Linked DNA regions of Homo sapiens: all the other regions are reported to be linked to region 1. The links are microRNA targets in miRTarBase. Many come from high-throughput screens and were not tested one by one. Region 1 holds a microRNA gene; each other region holds the end of a gene's coding sequence.
The links. The annotated mature microRNA hsa-miR-6821-5p reads GUGCGUGGUGGCUCGAGGCGGGG and lies in region 1 at 2,724-2,746, opposite strand. An mRNA with a match to its seed (bases 2 to 7 or 8) in the 3' UTR can be bound and repressed. Matches are read on the target gene's strand: a 7mer-m8 pairs with bases 2 to 8, a 7mer-A1 pairs with bases 2 to 7 and ends in A, and an 8mer does both.

Region 2: the mRNA of KIF3A is a reported target of hsa-miR-6821-5p. The part of its 3' UTR that is shown has no 7-base or 8-base seed match.
Region 3: the mRNA of RAET1E is a reported target of hsa-miR-6821-5p. The part of its 3' UTR that is shown has no 7-base or 8-base seed match.

Annotation. Positions count from the first base shown.
Region 1 is chr22:49,961,458-49,965,611 of GRCh38, reverse strand. It overlaps MIR6821 (microRNA 6821), which reads right to left and starts at 2,746; the gene lies at 2,673-2,746. PIM3 (Pim-3 proto-oncogene, serine/threonine kinase) reads right to left here. Exons shown (of 6, transcript NM_001001852.4): 4 at 3,801-4,154; 5 at 2,747-2,923; 6 at 1,540-2,672. The coding sequence ends at 2,485. RefSeq lists an enhancer at 1-404 and silencers at 2,978-3,497, 3,628-3,677.
Region 2 is chr5:132,692,967-132,697,112 of GRCh38, forward strand. KIF3A (kinesin family member 3A) reads right to left here. Exons shown (of 19, transcript NM_001300791.2): 19 at 1-3,716. The coding sequence ends at 3,668. Among named protein-coding and RNA genes, the nearest start is that of IL4, 21 kb to the left of the region's middle.
Region 3 is chr6:149,884,791-149,888,944 of GRCh38, reverse strand. It overlaps RAET1E (retinoic acid early transcript 1E), which reads left to right. Exons shown (of 6, transcript NM_001394057.1): 6 at 278-4,154. The coding sequence ends at 447. It overlaps RAET1E-LRP11 (RAET1E-LRP11 readthrough), which reads left to right. Exons shown (of 15, transcript NR_182438.1): 5 at 278-406. The region is part of intron 1 of RAET1E-AS1 (RAET1E antisense RNA 1); the gene reads right to left. Among named protein-coding and RNA genes, the nearest start is that of RAET1E-LRP11, 9.3 kb to the left of the region's middle.

The sequences.
Region 1 (4,154 bases):
GACCAGAGTCCTATTCTGACATCTGCCCAAGGTTCCTGCCTCTCTGGCCTTCAGTTTCCCAAAAGCAATCTGCGTGGAGGGCCTTTGCCTGGCTGAAGCCGGGGCTGGGGATGCCCATGGCTGGGGGCTGGGGAATGCCCATGGCAGTTGGCCCAGGAGCAGGTGGGCCGCAATGGCTGCTGCCCGAGGGTCCCATTTTGGCAGTGGGGGGTGGGGTAATGGGAAAAGCCTCACTGGACCAGACTGGACTCAGGGCACGCTGGTTGGGCCAGGTCTATGGGAACCGGTGGCTTGTCCTTCCCGGCACCTCCTCATCTCCCCTGCTGGCCTGAGGCTGTAGGGTGAGATGAGGGCCCCGAGAGACCTGCCTAACTGAGCAGCTGCCCTCCAGGTGCTCCTGGATCTCCACAGCAGAGGCCACAAACACCCACTGATGTCCTGAACAGTCACAACCTGAGGCGGGAGCCCCCCACCCGAGCCCTCTCTGCCTGCTCTCCAGGGGAAGGGTGACTTTCGTCTCCTCCTGTTTCTCTTTCCCAAACTTCCCGCCTCTGCCACAGCCTCTGGCCTCGGGCCTGGGACAGTCTTCTGTCCAGTATGGTGCTGCCTGCCCCGGGCTGTTTATCAGGGACTCTTATTCGGAGGGGCAGATGGGAGGCAGGGGGCAGACAGGGCTCCAGGAGCCAGAGAGCCGAGTAGGTGCGCTTGGCAGACTGGGTGATGCCCCAGGTGCAGGTCCACTGCCAACATGGGGCACCCCACAGCCCAGCACAGGGTGGGCAGTTGAGCAGAAGGCCCCTGGGGTGGGGGTGGGGGAGCAGTCTCACTGGGACCCTCCACCCAGGCCTCCTCTACCCACCAGGAACATTGTGGCCAGGCCCATTGACACACCCGAACCTGGTTCATACCCCACTCTCTCACCACACACCCGCCAGGCCAGGGTCTAACTATAACTGACTGAACACCCCGATACCCTCCACCAAACCCCACCCTCATGTCCTCTGCACGTCCTTGGCACTGCCCGGAACACACTCCCACCCCATGTGCCTGGCAAACTCCTCCCTGTCCTTCAAAACCCCCAGCCACCCTCTGAGGCAGCATGGACTCCCTCCCCCACCCCCCCGCACGTCTCTGTTTCCACCAAGCCAGGATGCAAGTATGGCCATTTCCACTGGCAAGGCCTCCCTGGGTGGGGGCTGCAGAGATCCTCCTGGGACCACCGAGGAATGACCTCCTGACTAGTGTGGGTTGCTGCATCCTCAGGGCCTGGCTCCCTGCCTCCACCTCCCAGAGGCACCCCAGGAGGCAGCTGCTCTTCTCCCTGGGTGCAGCACGGGGTAGTGCGGTGGGCCACAAGCCACATGAAGTAGCCTGTGGCACTGGGGAGGCTGGCACCCAGCTGGGCCTCCCCCGTTTCCCCCGTGGGCAAAACTACCAGCCCCACGGGAAACTTGTCAGGTCACCCAGCAGCCAAAGCCCTTCCTCAGAGCCCCTCTCTTCCCCCAGGATGCCCAGCCCCATAAATACAGGATTATCCACTATGTACAAAAACATTTTAATTGAAATACCTGTATAAAAAAATATGATCTCCAGACATCTCACTTTTGAACTGAAAGAACCCCCATCTGCGATGCCTGCACACACCGCATTCACACAAACACAGGTACTGAATAAATTAAACGCTCAGGCTCTGGCCCCACCCCAGCTTTCAGAGCCCACAAGCAGACTGTACAAAGTCAATAATTTAAAACCCAAACCCTGGGCACAGTGCCTGGAAGTGTCAGGGTCACCCACTCCCCTTAAGTTAGCCACTATACATGTTCATCTTCTGACAGGCGGGGCCGGGACAGACGCCAGGCACAGGAATCAGGGCCTGGGGTCCCTGGACCACAGCCACCCCCTCCCCTGCCTCCCCACTGTCCCCTGGGGCTTGGGAGAGGCAGACTGCTCAGAGGAAATAACCTCAACAAATAAATTAAACAATAAATAGCCCCGGTGGGCCGAGGGCACCTCCAGGGGGTCACACCATAAATAACAGAGTTGGCGGCGGGTACGGCTCGCGTGGGCGGGCGGGCGCGGAGGCCAGGACTTGCATTGTGTGTGCAGGACGTGCCCAGACGCACACCGCAGGACTGAGGGCGGGAGGTGGGCTTGGGACCCTGCGCCGGCGGAAAGAGCTCCGGGTGGGCAGGCAGATGGGAAGGCCGCCTCCGGACACAGCAGCACAGAGGGGCGTCTGGGGTTCAAGTATCCACCCAGGGCAGGCGGGACCTCGACCGGAGCGTCTTTGGACAGACAGAGCTTGAGAAAACCAAGTCCCGCGGGACCAGCGTTCAAAAGGCACTCAAAGCGAAGGTCACCAGGGGTCAGAGGTCACTGCTTCCGCAGGAGGAGACGGCCCACGCAGGAGAAAGTCAGGGTCTGGGGGCGTCCCAGGTCTGGCCAAGGCAGGTGGTCCCCTAGCTCCCAGTCAGGTGCAGCTCCTCACAAGCTCTCGCTGCTGGACGTGGTGCTGGCCACGTCATCAGGGTCGAGGGTGCACAGCCGCAGGTCACAGCTCTCCGGGACGCCCCCGTCAGCCCCCAGCATCCAGGGATGGGCCGCAATCTGATCCAGCGACGGCCGCTCTGAGGGCCGCAGGGACAGGCACCACCGGATCAGCTGCTGGCACTCTGTGCGGAGCGGAGAGGTCAGGGAGGGCCCAAGCAGGGCGAGGCCCCCACCCCCGCCTCGAGCCACCACGCACCTGGAGAGACCCTCCTCCGGAAGAGCAGGCGGCCTCGGAGGATCTCCTCGTCCTGCTCGAAGGGGATGTCCCCACACACCATATCGTAGAGAAGCACGCCCAGCGACCACACGGTGGCCGAGCGCCCGTGGTAGCGGTGGTAGCGGATCCACTCCGGGGGGCTGTACACTCGGGTGCCTAAGGGGACACAGGGCTTAGCACGCCCACCACAGAGGCAGAGCCGCTCAACAGACGGCGAGGTCCCTGCTGGTTAACTCCCTGGCCTCAGTAACAGGAAGCAGAGCCAGGCCTCAAAATCCTGCTCGTCATCACCCTGGAAAAACCCCGGCAGGCGATGGGGGGGCTGGGGGAGGGGCCGGCCGTCCCCCTCCGCCGGCCGCGGGGGAGGAGCAGGTCACATGAGTAAGAGCTCGGCTTTCACAACAAACAGATGCGCTGTGAGGCTACCTGGGTGGGGGGGGGACAGCGCGGGTCCCTTACCGCCCGGCGCGCCTGCCTGCGGGAACGGGGGGAGGGGAGAGAGGGAGGGAGGAGGGAGGGGCGGGCGGGGAGCCCCGGCTTCCCCAAGCTCCGCAATGCGGGGATTTCTGCCGCCGCGCCCCCGCGCTCCGCACGCACGCAGCTCCCGCCCCCACGCAGGGGAGGCCCCGCCACTCCAACCGCGCCGCGGGGGCCTCCAGGCTCCCGGCGCAGACCCAGCCCGGCTGCGCCCTGCGTCACGCACGGAGACTCCTCCGCTACCGCCCCCAGCCGGGGGTCTCTCGGGCCGGAAGGATGTCACGCGCCTCCCACACCGGGGCAAGAGGCCCCGTACCCCCCAACGCGATGGAGGAAGCAATATTGAGCGCGCCCCTAGCCCCCACCCAGCACGATCCCGCTCTTGATCCCTCGCTCAGCCCTCCCCAGGGTAGCGCGTGGGCCTCTGCTCCCCACGAGAGCAGACCCAGGGCGCGCGGCCGCCCAACAGTCATCAGCCCCTCCATGTGCCGCCCCTGCAGGCGTTAACCCGCCGGCAAGGCCCCCGGAACGTTCCCTGCCCCGCGCCCGCGCTCACCGTCGAAGTCGGTGTAGACCGTGTCCTTGAGCAGCGCACCCGAACCGAAGTCGATGAGCTTGAGCTCTCCGGAGCGCAGGTCCACAAGCAGATTTTCGTCCTTAATGTCGCGGTGCACGACCCCGCAGCTGTGGCAGTGGCGCACGGCGGCCAGCACCTGCGCGAAGAAGCGGCGCGCCAGCGGCTCGTCCAGGGCGCCGCGCTCCGTGATAAAGTCGAAGAGGTCCTGCGCCGGCTCGGGCCGCTCCAGCACCAGCAGGAAGCCGTCGGGCCGCTCGAACCAGTCCAGCAGGCGGATGACGCCGCGCGCGCCGCCCGCCGCGCCCACCTTGCGCAGCAGCACCACCTCCAGGG
Region 2 (4,146 bases), not on the chromosome of region 1:
AAACGCTACCCATTCCTTAATTCACAGCCCTGTAGGAAAGAAGACTTTCCTTAAGAGTTAAGGGGAAGGATATTAAAAACAGACTAAAAGGAAACAAACAAAACAAAAAACAACCAAAAACCATAATCATAGTTTTAAAAACATGTTACAGAGGAAGTAGCACCACCCCCTCCCCCAATAAAACCTTAAATTTTTGCTGTAAAAAGAAAAAAAAAACAACTCCCTTTCTCCAGAAAGGAAATGAAATGGCTTGTCAAATGGATTCTATTCATGGGGCAAACATGGAGATGCGACCCTTCCCTTGATTACTCATCTCATGCTTTATAAGAATCTAAACACAAATAGGAAACACGATGATAATTTTAACATCCTATTAGTATATGTAATTGTAAGGATTATTAAAGAAGATACTATAAACCAATAATTCTACCAATGCTCCTTTTAATAAATAAATATCACTTTTTAAATTAAAGGGAAAAGAGAATACCCATTCAATAACCTATTTATATATATGTGCCACTCATTTTAAATCTGCATATTTATTTCAAAAAATGAGCAAGTGTGTTCATCTATATCGTCTCACGAAATTAACACTGACCTTACAACATATTTCATTTGTGGACAAAGACACAGTAAATGTGAGGAAACTACAGAATTGCTATGACTGGAGCTAAATGAATAGCTCTGAAGTCAGTGTCCCATATTTGCATATAGATATTCAGACCAGGCTTGAGGCCAGGCGTGGTGGCTCACACCTGTAATCCCAGCACTTTGGGAGGCTGAGGCGGGCGGATCACAAAGTCAGGTGAGACCAGCCTGGCCAACATGGTGAAACCCGGTCTCTACTAAAAAAAAAATACAAAAATTAGCTGGGTGTGGTGGCGCAAACCTGTAATCCCAGCTACTCAAGAGGCTGAGGCAGGAGAATCCCTTGAACCCAGGAGGCAGAGGTTGCAGTGAGCCGAGATCGCGCCACTGCACTCCAGCCTGGGCGACAGAGTAAGACTCCGTCTCAAAAAAAAAAAAAAGATATTCAGGCCAGGCTTATGTATCAAATTTTGGTATTTCTGAGATGGATATTTAATGTCCATCTGGTATAATCAGTTTTAACATAATGCTTTTTTTAAAAAACTGCTATAGTAGGCGGGGTGTGGTGGCTCAGGCCTATAATCATGCCTGTAATCCCAGCACTTCGGGAGCCTGAGGCGGGTGGATCACTTAAGCTCTAGGAGTTCAAGACAGGCCCGGGCAACATGGCAAAACCCCATCTCTACAAAAAAATACAAAAATTAGCCGAGCATGATGGCATACAGCTGTAGTTCCAGCAACTCAGGAGGCTGAAGAGACAGAGGTTACAGTGAGCCGAGATTGTCCCACTGCACTCCAGCCTAGGTAATAGAGCCAGACTCCGTCTCCAAACAAAAAACAAACACCCCTGCTATAGTAGCCTGCTTTTAGAACTTCTCAATTGACTTTTTATAGATCGGCTTTTTATTTTGACTTTTTATAGATTTATTTTTATTATCATGGTAGGGTGGGATAGAAAAAATATCTAACATACTGGCTTAAATTTCCATGTTTTAAAGCTTGATTTAAAAGTTACTCCTTTCCTATTAACTGAATTGTTAAAGGTTAGAAACATGAACTTTTAAAAAGAAGCGTTTTTTTTAAACTGGTAAAATTAAGATTTCTTTAGAGTAATTACTAACAGAGTTAAATGTGTATCATCAAAAACATTTTATAATTACCAAAATATTCTGATCACACAAAGCTTTTACAAGACACATATTTACCTCAACTCTTCACAGTATCTAAACAATGCCCCACAGAGTTAAGTAATAAATTTCTAGCTATCTTACATACCACAAACAAATGCAGCCAGTGAAATGCAATTCTAATCACCTAGAAAATGTTCACCACACACAGGACATTCAGTATTCCAATTACAGAATGGACTTTAAATTTATGGGTACATTTTTATCGCCACCTCAAGAGTACTCCACCTTCACTCACCCCTACTCTATACACAGCTTTGTCATTTAAACTAGGATTTAACAAAACTTATTAAAATAATATTAATTTAATAAATACTAACTTATAAAGTCTCAAAATATTTTCAACCAATGTGTTTCAGGGCTGATTACATAATTTTGAAAACCACAAAACATATATTAAGTGGTTTAGGAGTAGCATAACTTTATTTTTATTTTATTTTTATTTTTTGAGGTGGAGTGTCACCCTGTCACCCAGGCTGGAGTGCAGTGATGCCATCTCAGCTCACTGCAACCTCCGCCTCCCAGGTTCAAGTGATTCTCCTGCCTCAGCCTCCCAAGTAGCTGGGATTACAGGTGTGCGCCACCACACCCAGCTAATTATTGTATTTGTACTGGAGACAGGGTTTCACCATGTTAGCCAGGCTGGTCTCGAACTCCTGACATCAAGTGATCCACGTGCCTCGGCCTCCCAAAGTGCTGGGATTACAGGCGTGAGCCACCATGCCCGGCCAGGAGTAGCATAACTTTAAAAAAATACAATAAAAGTTTCATAAGCAGCTAACAACAGAAAAAAATAATTATCTCTATTACAACTTACTTTACTATGAAATCAACATAGTTTTTATTTGTAGAGGAATATGGTCTAACTGGATTACCCAATAGAAGAAATTCAGAAAATAATATTTTATTTTTAAAATAGAAAAACAAAATAAAAAAGTGTTTTAAAGGCAAAGTATTTAAAAGATATTTTTCTTGCTTAGCTGTATTTTCTGGAAAATGGAGACTCTTCTTAACTGGGAGACATAAAGTAATTCCCACCAAAATTTAGAACTCAAAGAAAAGCATCCATAACACTTCAGAGTGAATTTTTAAAAATATACACGCAGGCAAAGATAACTGAGCAGTATTTAGCTTCTTAATTTTCCGCAACAGTAGATCCTTTATATTTACGTACAATTCAATGTTTCAAGAGAACATGAAACCAGAACTTAAGGTGTATTTGATTTGAACTCAAACTGGCAAAAAAAAGTTAGGAAAGGTTCAGATGAAACATTTTCAACTTGTTAAAAAACATGTATACTCGCAAAGACTGTTAAATTATAACATTTTCTACAAAACATTCATAAGATCAGTCATCTCATACTTAAAATGCAACAAATGTTAGACAATTAGAATGTGTTCAAACAGGCTGGGTGGGTGTTAGGACGGAATCATTCTTTAGATGTACAGTCCAAACATTCATATATAACAGCGCAACATAGGACAATCTGATCTGCTTCTTTCTATGTGCAAAACAGGACACAGTTTTTTTTTTTCTATTTTGAAATTCTAGTTACCTAAATATACAGTAGTTGGATAAATAGCTAATCGATTTACACATACATCTAAACTGTAACTCTCTATAGTATGAACTGTTCCCCCAACTTCCCTGCACAGTACAATTGAAGAGTAGTAGTACAACAATTTGAACAATCACCAGTTGTACAATTTTAATGTTATATTAATATATGTAGACTAAAAGTTCTTAAGCAAATTATTATTTCCAGTCTTATTCATTGATCTACAACTTCCATTAATTGAAATTATAGAGAAGTCTTCACTGTTTTAATTAAAGATTTTGTCCAGGCATGAGAATATCACTAATTTTTATTGTGACTTTAAGTCTGTAACATTTACTGCAGTAAAGAGTCAATTACAGTTTCAGGCTTTGCAGAACGCTTTCTGTTTGGAGAAGAAAAAAAGCAATCATGAATGCTTTCCTAAAAGACTGAAATGCAAACATTTAACATTATATAGAAACTATGGGGTGGCCTGTATAGTCTGGAAACAAGCCAAAATTTGACACGTTTGACCATGGTAAGTGTTCAATTAATGCTCGCCTTTTCAGGCTACGGGAAGCTAACTTAAAGTAAATGCAAGAGGATGGCAGCCCACCCCATTATGCCAGATAGTGAAGGATAGGACAGGTGATAATTTCCAAGACTAGACTAGGTCATGTGGCCAGGCCAAGTGAGCTGCATGCTTGCCAGATTTGAACTTCCTGATTATCTCTTCTGAGGTACTCAAAAGGTGCAAGTGGATTCAGAGGAAATCAGAAACAAATCATCTCAGGCAATACCTGATGCATATGTAGGGACTTATGGAAATGCTA
Region 3 (4,154 bases), not on the chromosome of region 1:
AAACAGTTCTAACCACAGTAATCGTGAAACTGTGTGGTAATCAGATGGATATTTGCTACCTCTCTCAGTAGAAATCTGAGCTCCATAAGGACAAGGCACAACCCCTATTCATCTTCATGGCCCAGGGCCTGGTAGAGTGGCTGTCACATGAGCCAGTGATTATGTGGGGCACCATGTGTTCCTGGGGAAAGCAGGGGCTAAGGAAAGCATATTTTTATGCTTTTTTTTTTTATGTGACAGGGCTTGTGCTTTTTTTTCTTTTTTTTTTTTTTTTTAGTGTCACCAGTAAATGCTTCAGATATCCACTGGTCTTCTTCTAGTCTACCAGATAGATGGATCATCCTGGGGGCATTCATCCTGTTAGTTTTAATGGGAATTGTTCTCATCTGTGTCTGGTGGCAAAATGGTGAGTGGCAGGCTGGTCTCTGGCCCTTGAGGACGTCTTAGTCTGGTAAGGACTCAAGAGAGGTGAATCATGGGTCTCATCCAAGCCCCCGCTCCCTGATCCATCTCTCTCCACAGAAATGGTGCACTGCCTTAGTCTTGAGCCCCCACACTACACAGCAGGGCTGGCAGCACAATGTGCAGTGAGAGGAGGGATGAAGCAATCATCTCCTCTCGAGGAGGGGCAAGGTCAAAGATCTGGAACGCCTGCCTGGGGTGTTGTCTCCTTGCCATCCGGCCCAGGTTTCATCCAGCTCTTTGACGGAAAGTTTGTTTGCTGTCTGCGTTTACCGTGATTTAGCTCAGCAGGTCCCATCCCCTTTTCCCGTTCACCCTGAGAAGACTTGCTGGTGGCGCTTGTGGCTGCAGCATTTACTCCCAGATAACATACAAGATGTGGTATAAGAAATCCTTTCACCACCCTCTAAACATTACAGTGCCGAACTACATCCTACATTTTTAGTAGAGATGGGGTTTCTCCATGTTGGTCAGGCTCGTCTTGAACTCCCGACCTCAGGTGATGCTCCCGCCTCGGCCTCCCAAAGCGCTGGGATTACAGGGGGAGCCAACACACCTGGCTGAGAGAACTATTATATGCCAGACACATTGCCAGACATCTTCTGCTCTTTGGTCCTGTTTCTCCGCCACTGCTCTGACATGAAGAATTCATTTCTTTCTTCCATTGCTGTCTTTGTCCTCATAGTGTCTTCTCTAAATTGACCCAGGCAGACCTCAACATTTTCAAGTACAGCAATTTGGAAAAGTTAAGTAGAGCTCTAGGGTTCAAGTCACAGTTCCTGGGGCTCTCTCTGTGGAGTTCAAAGTTAGGATTCCCTCTAATGAGAAAAATAGGCTACTCCATCTGACTCACTGAGGATCAATGTTTCTGATGTAAGAAATGATTCTACCCTTTTCATTGCTTAAACGAATACCATGACTCAGATATGTGTCTGTTTTGCAGGGGCCCTGACATGAAAAGTGAGTTTGCCAAGATCGGTGTCACAACAGGCTTGGCAAGATATGGCTTGAGTCAGATAAGGGCCACTGGTCCAGAAGGGGCTCGTGTGGTGGGTGGTGTGATGGCAGCAGGAACCCAGGGAGTGAATATGCTGAGATAGGAAGGGGTCCCACCCACAGAGCTGCAGGCAAAGGGGTCCCACCTTAATCCCTGGTGGAAGGTGACTGAGAAGGACTTAACTGCCCCAACCAAGCAGGCTGGGACTTCAGTGCCATTGACAATAGTGAAGGGGATTGGTGAGTAGGAAGGGAGGCAAAAGAACAGTTTTAGAAGCTGGGTCTGAACAGTAGGGATTTAAAGGAGGTGGGACCTCCATAGACACCTGGGAGTTCCTGGCCTCTAGCCTCATCCTGGTAACCGAGTCGGCTGCTGAAGGGCTTCCTGTCTGGGCAGGAGCAGGCAGGGATCAAGCGCCGGTGGAGGTCAGTGCCCACAGCTGAGCTGAACAGAAGTGGGAGGCAGAGTGGGCCTGGGGAAAGGTGTATTACAATTCAAGGGGAAAAAAATATATCTGCCACCCTTTGGGGAGGGCCTCCCCACTGTGTCGCATGGATTTCTCTGTCACGGGGAAGAGCAGCACCCAGGGAAAAAGAGCTTTGTGTGCCCATGACACATTCCTATTTTGTTGTCTCTGGCATTTCTGGGCATTGTTTCTGCTGAAGTGACAGAAGAGAGAAAAAGCTGATCAAAGCTAAATGACAGAGCAAAGGGGTTGACAGGGAGTGTCTTTTCAAATACACAGGGACATTCACCAAGAAGGGCCATTTTTGGATCATAAAATAAATCTCATCTGGGCGTGATAGCTCACTCCTGTAATCCCAGCACTTTGGGAGGCCAAGTTGGGTGGATCATTTGAGGTCAGGAGTTCGAGACCAGCCTGGCCAACATGGCGAAACCCTGTCTCTACTAAAAATACAAAAATTAGCCGGGTGTGGTGGCATGGGCCTGTAATCCCAGCTACTCGGGAGGCTGAGACAGGAGAATCGCTTGAACTCAGGAGGCGGAGTTTGCAGTGAGCTGATATTGCGCCATTGCACTCCAGCCTGGGTGACAGAGTGAGATTCCATCTCAATAAATAAATAAATAAATAAATCTCAACATATGTAAAGGGTTAAAATCATGCGAAGCATCTTGTCCAAGCACAATGGAAATAAACTAGAAATCAACAGCAGGAAGCTATCTGGAAAAATCCTCAAATGTTTGGATATCAAATAATATGCTTCCAAATAACTATATATCAAATTAAAAAGTACAAGGAAAACTAGAAAGTATTTTGAAATGAATGAAAATGATAATACAAAATATCAAAATCTATCAGACACAGATAAGAAAATGTCTAGAGGCATCCACACTGAACTTTTTGATCTCTGAATCACCGTGCATCATTGCTGCCAAATTTTTTGCTCATGCTCATCTCTGCCTGGAATTTTCTTTCTTACCTGACCGAATTCCAGACAGCTATCCAAGTCCAGTTTAACTGTCACCTCCTCTAAGAAGTCACCATTCTTCCTGGATAGAATTAACTACCCCCACTCGTAGCTCAGAAACTCTGACCACAGAAAAATTATCACATTGTTTTATGATTGGGTGTATGTCAGTAAATTGATGCGCTTACTTGAGGACATTACTTTTGTAACCTGAGAATCTATCATGGCTGCTATATAGTAGACGCTCAGGACATGTGAGGACTTGAGTGGCAGCGGAGGTAAGGGTCATCTCCTGGGTATGGAGCTTGGACAAGAACCTGCACTCTTCTGTTCCATTTCACCTCAACCATCCATGTCCCCAACCACATCTCCACCATCCTACCTGTACCAAGTGCTAATCCTTTGAATCATGTCAGTGACTATCTTCAGCTCAATCCCAATCACAGGTCAGGAGGGAGGGCATCAGGTATACTGTGAGCAAAACAGAGTATGAGATGGGGCCAACTGGCCTCTGGATTAGGGGCAGGGCTTGTCCTGTATGAGGACAGGGAGAAATGAGGTTGCTAAGTCTCCCCAAGACCCCTGCCAAATCTCACCATAGACATAAGATGAGGTGAATTTCATTTATCGCCTGGGCATTCACGACCTGAGAGGCTTAGCTCTGGGTCAAGTTGAGCCCTCTCTGTCCCTGGCCAACAGGAGAAAGGCAAAGGCTGAATGAGTCTCGGGGACTGTCTCTGCTTTGCAAGTGGGCCCTGAGGTGAACAGGGACCTTTCCAAATTAATGCATCCACAGCGGTTTGGCAAAGTCGGGCTTTAAACCAGGGTCACTCTCCAGGGGTTGCCTATGTGATGGGTGGTCTGATGGACAGAAACACAGAGGGTGGGCAAGACACAATTTTGGGTGGGGCAGCAGCTTGATGATCTGACCATCTGACCATGGGAAAGTATATCACATGCCAAAGGTTGAGGGGTCTCTAGGTTTAATTCCTAGGAGGACATAATGAAGAAGGCTGCCTGGGCTCCAACAAAGCAGGCTGGAGGCAGGGCCACACAGACCGTGGGAGAGGGGATTGTGAGCAGAAGGGAAGGCTGAAAGTGAACCCTAGACACTCTGTGAGGACAGCAAGGACTAGAAGGTGGGATTCCTTTGACACCTGGGTTTCTGGTTCACCCCTGACACAGGAATCCTGGCAAATGGCGTCGTGCCAAGCCCCACCCTCAGTGCTCTGGACCTGCCGCAGGGATACCCTTGCCCACAGCTG